2 linked regions of the Homo sapiens genome follow. The protein of the gene in region 1 interacts with the protein of each later gene in a pairwise test. Each region holds a gene or a part of one and is shown on either strand. Other genes may lie near its edges.

Region 1 (3,576 bases):
GGAATAAAGTTTTAATATATGAAAACTTATGAACAGTATACAATAATTACTAATATTCATTTACTTGGATCACTGAAAATACCTCTAAAGTACAATATAGAGAGATTTTAATTTAAATAATATTCCAGAAAAGCTTACTTTAGATTATTTGTAATTGATAAATATTATATTGGTATAGTACACCACTTCGCTATCTTTTATTTTCCATCTAGGTGAAAAACCATACATATGTGGTATTTGTGGGAAAAGTTTTATTTCCTCAGGAGAGCTCAACAAACACTTTCGGTCCCATACAGGTCTGTGTTTAGGGAGAACGTATTATTTTTTGTTCTCTCTTAATTTCTTTTTATGTAAACCTTGACTTTTAAGCCATTATGGACTATATGGTATTTAGTCATACTGTACCTATAGCAATATCTTAATGTATAAATATCAACTTATTTGCTTATTTTGTTTTTTTTTTAGTTGTTTGGAGTATGAATTAAATTTGTTAAAGAATTGTGTTGGTTTTCCAAGAAATATGCCAGATAATCAATAGTTTTTAAATGATTTGGATTAAATTGCACAGATATACCAAGAAATGAAAAGGAATAGGTAATACCAAGATAACATCAGATTTTCTTACTAAACAGTGTTTAGTATGCAATTTTTAGGAACAAATTTTAATTTTGACATGCTTATTGTAAAAAGTAGTTTGTAAATTGTATAAAGAAAATATTGAATGTAAAAAATTTTAAAACAAAGGAAAATGCCACTTTGAAAGAGTACTGTTCTGACATTCTCTTTTTAAAAATTCCTTCTCATAATTCCTACCTAGAATAATGTGAGTACTTAATAGAGATTTAGTAAGTTTTTGGTGACTTTATATTCTGACGCGCTTTAGTTTACACCATAAAGCACTGAACAGTTATTTCCAAAGAAGTGTAATATTGTAGCATGCTGTCAGTATTTTTAAGGATTTTCTAATTTGCCAGGTACCTGAGAGCAGAAACCATGATTATTACACTTATTTTCTCCCAGCTGTATCTCTTAGCCAGTGTCTGGCATATAACTGACACTCACTAAATGTTTCATAGAAATACAAGAGTAGGCTTTTGTTTGTTTTAGTTTGCAGATACATTTCTGTTTATGAAAATGCTCAAGTTTTCTTGAGATACAGATTTTTTGTATAAAGGAGTGTCTAGGTTGTATAGAATCTTTCATTTCACTATATTATAACCAGGTGATTAAAGTGACAATTTGAAACCAAATTTAAACACTATAATAATTTTTGCCTTGTGTTCATAAACATTGATATTTTTGTCTTAGCTAGCAGCTTTTAAAATATTGAAATTTAAACTTCTAATTTGTTTTTCAGGAGAAAGACCATTTATCTGCGAATTATGTGGAAATTCTTACACAGATATTAAAAATTTAAAGAAGCACAAAACAAAAGTCCATTCTGGTAAATGCTTGTGTTTTGTTTGCTTGTTTGTTTGTTTTAATTTGGTGCTCATATTAGTGCTATTCCTTAAAATGCTGAGATGAGATTTACATTTAAGCAGTTTAAATTAGATGTCTATTTCAAAAACTAGGTATATACATGTGAGGAAAGTAGCTTTTTTGCAGAAACATTCACTCTGGATTTTTCATATTGAATCTCTTATTTAAAAAAAAAAAAAAAAAACTTGAAACATTTCCTCCTTTGAAAACCTGACTTAATAACAGTCCCAAGCATGAAGGAACATATAAGCAAGCTATGTGTCACTGTTTCCCATACTGGAGTCTGGATAACTCAGGGTTTACTATGGTTATTATGAAAAAAAAGGGGGGGGGGGTGGTGTTATCATGAACACTAGTCCAGAAATGTTTAAGAGGAAATAGGGAAACAGGTAGCCCTACATTGTTATAATATATAAAAATGGAAAGCCAAACAACAAGTTTTGAGTCTATTGGTTAAAGTGAATTCTTGAAAAAGTTTCCCTGTGCTTACCATTTTATTCCGTCATTATTCGACATGACACTAGGCCCTTCTGGTGTGTAAATACTTAAACATCGTAAGTATTAAGTTAGAAACATCTAAAAACTGCAGTAAGTCATTAATTTAACCACTTGTTAAATTTCTGTAAAGTGTACTTTCAGGGAATATGAAGTTAAACAAGGCATAGTTCTGGTACTCAAAGCACTTACAACCTGGTGTGCGAGACCAGAAACCTAAATAAATAATTAAATAAACTAAATAAATAGGGAAAATGTAGGGCATAATCGACACAAAAGTGCTAAAGAAGATACTATGTTTTTCTGAGGTAAGTACTAAAAAAAACTTAATTTTAACTTGAAGGATGGAGAAGAGTTCAAAGATGGAGATGGGAAGAGAGGATTCATTCCGGGCAGAGAACACTGTAGAGAGTCAGTGGGACAAGAAGGAAACCTTAGCTAGTTGAAGTGAAGAGTAGTTTGGGAAGAATACAGATAATTACAATTTTACGAAAGCAGTTTTGTCTGCGTGACAAGGACGGTGAAACCAAAATCATGTCAACACTTTAGAGTAACGGAAGCATGTTAAAGCCATTGGAAAATTTGAAGGCAAAAGTACATCTTTAGTCAGTGTGCTGATTGCTCCCTTGAGTAGAGCAGAATTTCTCACCTCTGAAAATATATGAAAGTGCCATACATACTGTTCTGAACTCACAGAATAATATGAACAACTTATTAAAAACATTCAGTGAATGAAAAGAGTATTTCTTATCACTGTTTAATATTTTGAGGGAGTTAAAGAAGTATAACGACATTTACTCTCAAAGAATTTACAGTCTGGTTGAGGATTCAAGGCATACCTGAGTAGAATGTTAAATGGCAATAAGAGAGATAGATGCCACAAGGCAGTATATGAAAATTGACAAATGTGTGATTAAGCCGATATAACAGCTCACCCTGTTTCATTCTTAATCAAGTCCATTTTTTTAAATGGAGTTGGTGCTTGAACTTAACCTTGAGGCCCAGATTGAATTTACATAGATAGTGAGGAGGGCATATGTACAAAAGAGAAACCGCTTGAGTAAAGGTATGGTGGTTGGAATGTAATTTCTGGGAATGGTAAGTACATTAGTCTACCTCAGGGGTTTAGTTTTGTTTTAAAGATAATGTAGATTTTTTTTTCCTTCCATTCTAGGTGCAGATAAAACTCTAGACTCCAGTGCAGAGGATCATACTTTGAGTGAACAGGATTCCATACAAAAAAGTCCTTTATCAGAAACTATGGATGTGAAGCCTTCTGATATGACTTTACCATTAGCTCTTCCACTTGGGACTGAGGACCATCACATGCTTCTGCCTGTCACGGATACTCAGTCTCCTACATCAGATACATTGTTGAGGTCAACTGTGAATGGGTATTCAGAACCACAGTTGATTTTTTTACAACAATTATACTGACTTTGTAAGGAATATGGAATTGCTAAGATATCATTGGTAGCAAACATCTCTGGTAAGGTGCATATATTCATATTAAATTCCCATTCATTTGAGTTGTGACCATTATTTTTCATTCACTGAAGTAAAAGCACCTGATGCTGCATCACAACTGCAATGTTTGTT
Region 2 (2,776 bases), on another chromosome or scaffold:
AATTATAAATGGTCACATTTTCTGATATATTGTAGGGATGGTGGCTGTCAGAGTTCTGAAATACACGTCTGTTTCTCCTTATGGTAGATGATTTCTTTGTTTCCTTTCAAGATCAATTTAAAGATAATTCTTTTCTGTCCAGCTATTTGTATTTTTAATTCTAGCTACATTATAATTATTTACTATCTTAAGTTAGAAAAGTTATTTTTGTGTGTGTTTAAACAGGGGTTTCCTGGAAGCACCTTCATGTCATCCTATCAAAACCATAAATGAGAAACTCATTGCTGAATTAGGCAAAGTTTTCCCGCTAAAAAGGCTGAAGTGTTCCTACCCTTTGCTGCCACAGGAAGGTACCAGTGTTCTTCCTTTCTGGAATTGTGACTTTCTGTCAGCTGCTTTTTGGATTAGTCTCCATGAAGATAACTCAAATTCTGAGTCCCTGACTGGTGGGACATCACAAGATGTGGAAGACTTTCTAGTGTCATTTTCAGAACTTAGCCTTCTCAAGAATCCTGGAAGAGATGGTAAAGAAGAAGCTTGTGAAGGAACCTGTGGCCAGGCCAAGATCTGCCTTAGACCTTCTCTCCTAGTGCATGTTCAGGATGTCATCGAAGTACCAGACTTCCTCTCAGGTTCTCTGCACATCCTCAGTGGACCTGTCTTTCAGAAGTGCCACATTTTGCCTTTCACAATGCCAGCATTTCATGAAACTTTATTTATCCTTGGGGTTAATCAAAATCTGAAGGATGGCTGTCTTCAATCACTGCTGGATCATCTGAAGGGCATTCTAGATAGCCTGCTGACCCAGACATTGCCGGAGAGCTCTAAGCTGAGCAGTTTAGTCAAATTTGTCCTTCAGTCAAATGGAAAGGATTATATGATTCGTGTGAAGACTCATAATTTTAGCCCAGATTGTACTGAGGATCTAATTATTGGGTCTGTTATCACATCTGCCACTAGTGTTATACATAAAGACCAGTGTTTTGTGTTTGTGTCTATGAACTTGGACTTATTAGCCATGCTTGTCTGGTGTATCTCTGACTGGAGAATGTTGTGGACGTTTGATAACCGTTTCCTGAAAAATTTTGTCCCTGGCAAAATAGAACCCTTTAAAAGTCATTCTCTGTATCCTCCATGTTATGTGCATGATGTTAGTTTTTGGATAGATCAGAAGAAAGGATTTGATGAACTAGAGTTTCACACTGTGGCCCGAGCAGTGTCTCAGGACACTATTATATCCATACAGTTTCTTAGCCGTTTCCAGCATCCAAAGACTCAACAGGTCAGTCTCTGCTATAGATTGACCTACCAGACCTGTGACAAGGCCCTCACCCAGCAGCAAGTAGCATCAATGCAGTCCCAGTTTAGGAAGGAGATTCAACAACACCTATATGTTATACCTCGGTAGTTTGGTAAATCCTTTTCTGCAGTGTGATCCTTCATTGCGGGGGATGTGGAGGAAAATTACCAACTTGCAACCAGTAGTCCTTTCTGGATTTTTGTTTTTGTAAAATCTTTTACTTTGTGACCATAGCTACTGTTCGTTGATCTTTTTTTTTTTTTTTTTTTGAGACGGAGTCTTGCTCTGCCGCCCAGGCGGGAGTGCAGTGGCAGTGGCATGATATCAGCTCACTATAAGCTCCACCTCCCAGGTTCATGCCATTCTCCTGCCTCAGCCTCCCGAGTAGCTGGGACTACAGGCACCTGCCACCACGCCTGGCTAATTTTTTTTTTTGTATTTTTAGTAGAGACGAGGTTTCACCGTGTTAGCCAGGATGGTCTCAATCTCCCGGCCTCGTGATCTGCCTGCGTCGGCCTCCCAAAGTGCTGGGATTATAGATGTGAGCCACCGCGCCCGGCCTACTGTTAGTTGATCTTAAAGATACCTTGACTCTATTACTGAAACTTATAGATTATAATGTGATTGGTGACATTTGGAGTTGTGTAATATTTTGGTCCCGAGAAGTGACTAAAACAATAAACAAAACAGCATCTTGTACTTTAGATGCTCTATTGTTGAACAGGCAGTAGAACTTAAGTGTCTCATCAAATATAAATATGTTTTCCACACTGTCAATTACTCTTCCCTTAACTTTGTTGTATCATTTCATTAAATCACCTTATGAGAGTAGTTTTTGGCATCAGACTAACATTTATTAGCTTGGGAAATTGCAAATATTCCACATTAATTTTGGTATTATTATTATAATCATCACCATTTTAATTCTGTGGTTGAAAGTCATGGAACGAATAAAGTGTCAGATTTAGGGTTAACATTTGGGTCTGTTTGACTCTAAAGCCCATGTTCTTTCTGCTACTTTCTGTTACTTCTTCCCTAGTCTTTAACAGTAATCGTTCAACTGTGATTAAACTTTGCCTCTCTGGATTTTGGGGCCTTCTGTTGTAAGTATCTCTAAGGGACACTGGAAAATTAGCTTAGGATTCTGCAGAATGCGGTACTCTAATGTGAAGTAATGTATGCTCCTGTTAATAGTTAGGCTCCACATTTGGGATTATATTCTGTGAGAGACATGACTGTCTTATTTATTCTTAGAGAAAAGCACTTGGGAAGGCAAGAATGGAAGTACAGAGACAAATTAGGAGGTTATTGCAGTAATGCAAATGAGATAATGACCTGGACCAAGGTGGTAAAATGTTGGGTTGGATAATATTTGGAAGGACTTGCTGATGAATTAAACATTTGTGTGTGGGTGAGAGAGGTGTGGGGTTAGAGAAATAAAGGAATTAAGCAAGACTACTAGGTTTTTGACCTGAA

Evidence for each region. Proteins that work in one complex are often made in the same cells at the same time.
Region 2: the proteins of MYNN (region 1) and FDXACB1 interact in binary tests that used the Homo sapiens proteins (3 or more experiments, as listed by UniProt).

The regions. Positions count from the first base shown.
Region 1 is NC_000003.12:169,783,265-169,786,840, forward strand, and holds part of MYNN (myoneurin), read left to right. Parts: intron 1-212; coding exon 213-296; intron 297-1,357; coding exon 1,358-1,444; intron 1,445-3,151; coding exon 3,152-3,414; 3' UTR 3,415-3,576.
Region 2 is NC_000011.10:111,873,554-111,876,329, reverse strand, and holds the end of FDXACB1 (ferredoxin-fold anticodon-binding domain-containing protein 1), read left to right. Parts: intron 1-225; coding exon 226-1,408; 3' UTR 1,409-2,274; downstream 2,275-2,776.